Linked DNA regions of Homo sapiens: region 1 is reported to be linked to region 2. The links are microRNA targets in miRTarBase. Many come from high-throughput screens and were not tested one by one. Region 2 holds a microRNA gene; the other region holds the end of a gene's coding sequence.

Region 1 (3,422 bases), not on the chromosome of region 2:
ACTGGTATGCTAGCCCACATGTACACTTTAGGAATTTCTTAAAATTTTTGCCAATATTTTACCTGTTTATATAAAGGCCATCTCTTTCTCTTGGGTTCTTCCTAAGGTTAAACAGTCAGTATGTCCCATCTCTCCTTGTAGGGCTTATCACTCTTTGGGATTTGGTTTGTTTGCCTTGTAATTTCAGTTCTTTGATATGTTCAAGAAAAAAAGCTTTAATTTTATAGATGACCCAGCCTTTTCTCCTTGTTAAAATGGGAATGACAGTCTCTTGAGGTTTTCCACATCTTCTTGAGAAGCAGAGCTCTGACTACCTCTACTAAAGTTAGTTGATTTTCTGTTACTCTCTTGTCAGTATCATTTCCATCACTGCACATATTAAAATTAGTAATTTTTTTACTTTGTCTCCTCCATTAGACTTTAATCCTATAAAAACATATACTACATCGCTTCATTGTTGTAATCTATTATACCTAGCACCATAATTGTACATATAGTACTCAAAACTAATACATACGACAGGTATTCATATTTTCAAAAACCAAAAACATTAACCCAACATACAGAAAATACTGTTAAAAAACATCCATGGAAATATTGATGAACAGAGGGAGAGGAGAGGCAAGAGCCCAAATGCAAACTGGGAAATTGTATTCTGAACCATCAGTTAGGTTTTAATTTATAACCTGCCTGGAGACTGTCTACAGTGTTGACTGAGTTCAAAACATAAAGCACAAATAAGAAAAGTATACCCCAAACCACACTTCTTTAATTAAGCTCTAAGAAAAACTCAAATAAATGAAATAGTAAAACTTTGATCAGTAATTCCTTATTGTTTATTCTCCTCTTACAAAAAGACACTTGGGACAAATAAATACAAAATGGCATATATCATATTTAGCAATGGGCAAATACACATTTTCTTGGTATTCTCCACAAGAATAAACTAATAAAATTTTCAGAGGCATACTCTTCTACCCATCTCTTACCCTCTAAAAAAAAAAAAGGCAATTATTTTAATTCCCTGTAATTTTTAACAATGAATTCTCAAAATAAGTAATCTAGGACTATTCAGGGACCAAGACATCTGAATCAACAAGTTAAAAAAAAAATGTCTGTATACACACACACACACACACACACACACACACACACACGATGTTGCCCAGAAGCTCCAATTAATGAAGAGTCTTAAAAGTTTTTCATTTCATATAGTTTGCATGAATAGAGCCTGTTCTATTCTAATCTCAATGGCAAATAATATAAAACAGAAAGCTGAACACAACATGTGTGTGTGTGTGTGTGTGTGTGTCTACTTTTCTGTCCTAAGAGAAAACATTAAATACAGGTATATTTAATATACAGTGAACATACCATGTGTTTTCTTAAAGCCAACAAAATCCTGATTTCCTATAGCTTGGAGGTGATACAGAAGGCAGAAGACAAATATCAAATTTAGCTAATAAAATATACCCTGCCTATTGGCTCCAGCAATACACTATAGAGTTTGAGCAATGACGGATACCCAAGTGTATATGTTTTGTTAAAATTTATCTTCAGGCTAATACCTGAAGAGGTTGGCTAATACTTTAAATCAAATATTCTTACTTAATGATTTATCCATCAAATGGAAATATGTACAACATATTTCAAATCAGAAAAGGGGTGAATTTTCCCCCTGCCCTTCAAAAAAATATTTTTAAAAATCCACTTGAAATAATTTCTTATTTGATGCTTTTTAATCACTTTCCACTTTATGACAACCATTTTTCTAGAAAGGCAGACAAGAATATAAAATGACTAAGGGGTCACTATGAAAACAATCAAATGGATTTGAAATTTACTTCTGTGTATTTTCTGTACTCCCTAAGTCTTGTGCTAATTAATTACATTTTACTTCATCCCCTGTAATGTTACAAATATGCACCTTAAAATAGAAAAACTTGCTTTTATATTTTAAAACCCCCTCCTCCTTACCTATCTTCCCAAATATTTTAAGCAGAAAATTAATCTTGTTGCTTTAAGGATTGATGTAATATTTGCGAAAAACAACCCCTAATAAACCCTTTAGACTTTTTCGAACCAGCACCAAATTTAAGGGGTTTATTCACTCTGAGGTTGCATGGAAGATGGAAATTAAAAATATCAGTATAAGTAGAACCACATTTAAGAAAAAGCACCTAAAGATGGAGGACAGATAATTCTAACATCCTACACACACACAGTGGTAAACCATATTCATGTTTCTATGTATGTAATAAGTTCTCCAAAAATCTAGGTATTTTTGGTTCTGGTACTAAGTCTAAATTTTTTTTTTTTAAATTTCAAAGGCAATTTAAAACTGGGGGGAAATACATTTTTAAAATTTTGGGGTTGAAGTTCACTACACTATGAGACTAATTTCGTATGTGGCAAGTTGCAACTCTCCAAAGGTGTGAATAAACATCAGAAAGCCCAAAGTGAAGAGCCAGTACATCAACATGCATGATCAGGAATCCTATGAAAGTCACAAGGCATTGGGATTTGGTGATTTACATTAACCTCCTCCTGGTAGAAGATAGTGTTTCATGATGAATGCAGACTGTGCTCACTGCTCATGAGACACACACATCACTACTGCTGAGGTCCCACTTTGTGATAATTTAGAAATCATCCAAATTTAACTCCAGAAAATATAAATCTGGAATATGAATGTGAAGACAGACAGTACAAACAGCAGTTGAGTGAAACCTGCCTGTAACGATCTTTATTTTTTTTTCCTTTAAGGCTACAGAAAATCTGTACATAAACAAGGCAATTAATTCTCATAATAAAAATAACCCCTTACAAATAGCCAAGGTGTCCAGTCAGATTCCATAGTGAGTATATGTTGTATCACATTTTATTCCACTTGTGTACTTTTTTGTGAGTCTGCTGGGTTAGGATCAATTCTTTCTGGAAATATTAGCTTCTCACAAACTGCTTCCTTTATTGGTAAATACTGGGATATTTCATTAGGTTCCGTGAAGAGGGAAGGTGGAACATGCTAGGAAATACATAAATCATATTAGCATATTCAGTTACTGTACTGAAATTTTTTACAAATGTTTTGGTTCAAGCATTCATAAAGCATGGAAATTTTAAAATCAGGTGCAATATATGCATATGTGCTCCTAAAAATAATAGGTATTTCTTGATACGGAATCATTCAACTTTGTTACTGAATGATTTCATCAAAGATCACAGGGTTATATAATCTATAATGTTCCCACAAATGTCCTAAGAATTTAATACATCTTAATCCAACCCTATGTATCTCCTGCTTTTGTAACTTGAAAACACTAGTCTTCGGTTAGAGCACAGCATGTAGTCTACAATAGAATCTAAGTAGTAACTTTTCTGTTCCAAGTATACTCTATACCCAGACAGAAGTACATACTAAG
Region 2 (3,422 bases):
AAAAAAAAAAAAAAAAAAAAGAATAAAACATGAAGAGGCAACTGAGTCTCATGCCAAATCTACTCCCCCAGGAAGTGGGGGAGCAGGATCTGGGCAGTGAACAAGCTCCCCAGGTGGTTCGTACCATCAGGCAAGATTGGGAGACTGGTGTCATGCTTAAGAGCATGGGCTTTGCTGGGTTCCATTGTCCTTTTACTTGGAGCCCTAGGAAGTCCCTTCTCTTCCTCTCAGCTCCATGTTACCTCCCTCTGCCCAGGGCCACAGTGTTAGAAAGGCAGACTTGGGCCTGTTGGCATAGCCACCTTTCCTCAACTACTCTCTGCAAGGAAAGAACATCCCCCACCTTCTTTCCCAAAGGTATATTTTTCTTTGCTCTTTTGCTTGCTTTCTGAGCCTTCTGCATCCCCCTTCCTTTATTTTAGGATAGTGCCCTGGTCCCAGATAGACAGTGAACTCATGTGTGGTAAAATAATCTCACCAGTGACTAATTTTCACTGTTGTATACTTGATTTAACTTGGAATTGTTTCTGATAATTTTATGACACTGTGAGAGCAAGGAGATAATACTGCATCTGCCACTTGCTGCTGTGTGATTTAAGGCAAGTCCTTTCACCTTTTTGAGATCCAGTTTCTTCATCTATAAAATGGGGATATTCATTCATTCAATCACTATTTACTGAATATCGGTTGAGTAAAGCACCTAGGACATATTCACATACACCTCACAAGGTCATGGTGGGGACTAAGCAAGATGGAGTATGTGGTATGTGGCTCATAGTCAACACCCAATACATGTTGTTGTTGCTGTTAGTTTTAGTCTATGAACAATTTTAAGCATCAAGTTATCAGTAATTCTGAGACTCACAATAAACAAATGTAGAAACTATTAACAAGTACTCAGGAAACACCACAATCCTTGCCTTTCATAAGTTAGAAGGCCAGCAGAACTCATTTCCTTGGGCAGGGACTTATGTGATGCCTGCCTTGGCTATGCTAAGGCTTTTGAACCAGCTCTAAATGAATCTCCTCATGGAGGCATGGCCAATTAATCACCAGGGTTGGTTTTTGTTTTGTTTGTCTCTCACACGAAGGCATCAAACAGAATAATTTTTACTACATTGGAATAATTTTTACTACATTACTACATTTTCTTACTGTTTCCTTGTTAAATGCTCTTTTATTGTTTCCAGCATTCACTCATTCATTTATTCAACAAATTTGTATACCACTGTGCAAGGTGCTAGGGATACAGTGGTATACCTCTCAAAGTCTCAGTCCTCATGGGGTTGACATTCTAGTGGGGTCTATAGATTGCCCTCACCCCTACTTCACACCAGACTGTCAAATGCCTGAGATCAGGGGCTGTGGTAGTGGCTCTTCCTTTGGATCCTCTCTATTTTTATTTTTTATGGAGATGAGGGTCTTGCTATGTTGCCCAGGCTAGTCTCTAACTCCTGGGCTCAAGTGTTCCTCCCGCCTTGGCCTCACAAAGTGCTGGGATTACATGTGTGAGGCACCACACCCAGCTTGAGTCCTCTCTTAAACACAGCACACAGAGCACAGCTTGGGGAACACAGGATGCCCTCCAAAAAGAATTCTTGATGGTTTAATGTATGCCAACGCTTAGAGTAATGTGCCAGCCATTATTCTAAGCATTGGTATACATTATTTCATTTACTCCTCACACCTCACCCAATGAGGTGGGCACTATTTTATGCTTATTTGACAAAAATGAAGCAACTGGGGCATGAAGTGGTTAAGAAATGTGACCAGGTTCCTGAAGCAAGTAAATAATAAAGCTGGCAATTGACCCTGAACCCAGGTCATGAAGATCCTCCTGTCATTCCACCCAGATTGTCCTCTTTTGTAAGTTCCCACTGACACCACTTTCAAATTGAGTGTGGAGCTCAGAGTCCTGGCCTCATGCCTCAGTTGACATTTTCACTGACTGCAGAGTCCTGGGGTGGCCCTATGTACTAGGCTGAAAACTGAACATCTGGGACACAGCAAGCTAATCCTCATCCTCATGAATTTCTTAATTTTTCTGGGTCACCTTGGCTATTTCAGTTAAGTCCAGCTCAGGTTAAAAAAAAAGAAATAAATAAAAGAATACTAGGCTGAAAACTGAACATCTGGGACATAGCAAGCTAATCCTCATCCTCATGAATTTCTTAATTTTTCTGAGTCACCTTGGCTACTTCAGTTAAGTCAAACTCAGGTTAAAAAAAAAAGAAAGAAAGAAAAGAAAAAAGAAACTAAGGAGAGTTTCTTCTATAGCAAAATAAAATTTTACAAGATAGGAAGTGCATATACTCTTTTTTGAGGCTAAAATGAAACAAATTCTATCTATGAAAACACTGAGTGATAGAAATAAGGCTCCCGTCCATTACTGGAGACTCTGGGTTTTATACTACCAGTGTCTCCAGTAGTAGACAGAAGCCTTATTTCTCAAGTTCGTTCTCAGGATACAGACACACACCATCAAAGGCTGGCCCAGATACCTACTTTCATTTGGAAGGCTGGTACTGGCAGATCCACGAGATACATATAGTTTCTTATCTAGAAAAGAAGAAGAAAACATTATTGGAACTGAAATTTCTAGGACTAGGTTAGAGAGTGCCCAGTAGCATTCCAGGGGCCCCACATTGCCTGGCCCTAAGTTTATGAATATCTAGCATATTCTCTCATATCAGATGCTACAAAAACTGAGAAGCTTCTGTTTTAAAGGTCCACCACCTTCCAAGGCAGTGTTCCTGATTAAGGGTCACTGACTTCCTCAACAGATCCTGGACTTCCAGTCACCAATTAATACAACTCATGTCAACATGAGTAGAGCATGAAGACCTTGGTGATAACCATTTGTTTGTGAATGTGTCTTGAGATTTCAGGAATAGGACAATGCCTGCATTAGTTTCACCATGATGTGCCTTGCTTACAGTAGATGCTCACTAAATATTTGCTGAATTGGACTTGAACTGTAAAGAGTTGCTAAGTTTGGAAGGTGATGATTTCAGCCATCTGTGTTCTAACCTACTGTCGAAACAGGGCTTTGCTGTGTGTATGCACAGGCATATATACAAGCACAGTTGGCCTAATTTTCCCTGTGAATCCAGTAGGAAAGGACTTTTGAAAAAGAGTAGAGGGGTAGGAAATTTCACAGGTTTCCCAAACATGACACTTCTATGATTTACTCCTTAAGTACATTCCTAATCAAATTCTGGAAATGACAGAGTGGTATTTTAATGGGAAATTTGTTTTCCACATTAGAATAGAACACAGTGCCTGACTTAGGTAGGCTATGCTGAACAGGCCTTTTGTTTACTATATGCTTAGTTCAGTGTAAAGATGGCTTCTAGTAATTTCTTTCAGGCATGGAACACTAGAACCACACTATGTATGGACAAGGAAGCTGCAAAAGAAAA

What was found. The annotated mature microRNA hsa-miR-934 reads UGUCUACUACUGGAGACACUGG and lies in region 2 at 2,414-2,435, opposite strand. An mRNA with a match to its seed (bases 2 to 7 or 8) in the 3' UTR can be bound and repressed. Matches are read on the target gene's strand: a 7mer-m8 pairs with bases 2 to 8, a 7mer-A1 pairs with bases 2 to 7 and ends in A, and an 8mer does both.
Region 1: the mRNA of TIPRL is a reported target of hsa-miR-934. Seed matches in the 3' UTR shown: 8mer at 1,310-1,317.

The regions. Positions count from the first base shown.
Region 1 is chr1:168,199,506-168,202,927 of GRCh38, reverse strand. It overlaps TIPRL (TOR signaling pathway regulator), which reads right to left. Exons shown (of 7, transcript NM_152902.5): 7 at 819-3,025. The coding sequence ends at 2,882. Among named protein-coding and RNA genes, the nearest start is that of TIPRL, 22 kb to the right of the region's middle.
Region 2 is chrX:136,549,905-136,553,326 of GRCh38, reverse strand. MIR934 (microRNA 934) reads right to left here and starts at 2,449; the gene lies at 2,367-2,449. It overlaps VGLL1 (vestigial like family member 1), which reads right to left. Exons shown (of 5, transcript NM_016267.4): 4 at 2,506-2,559.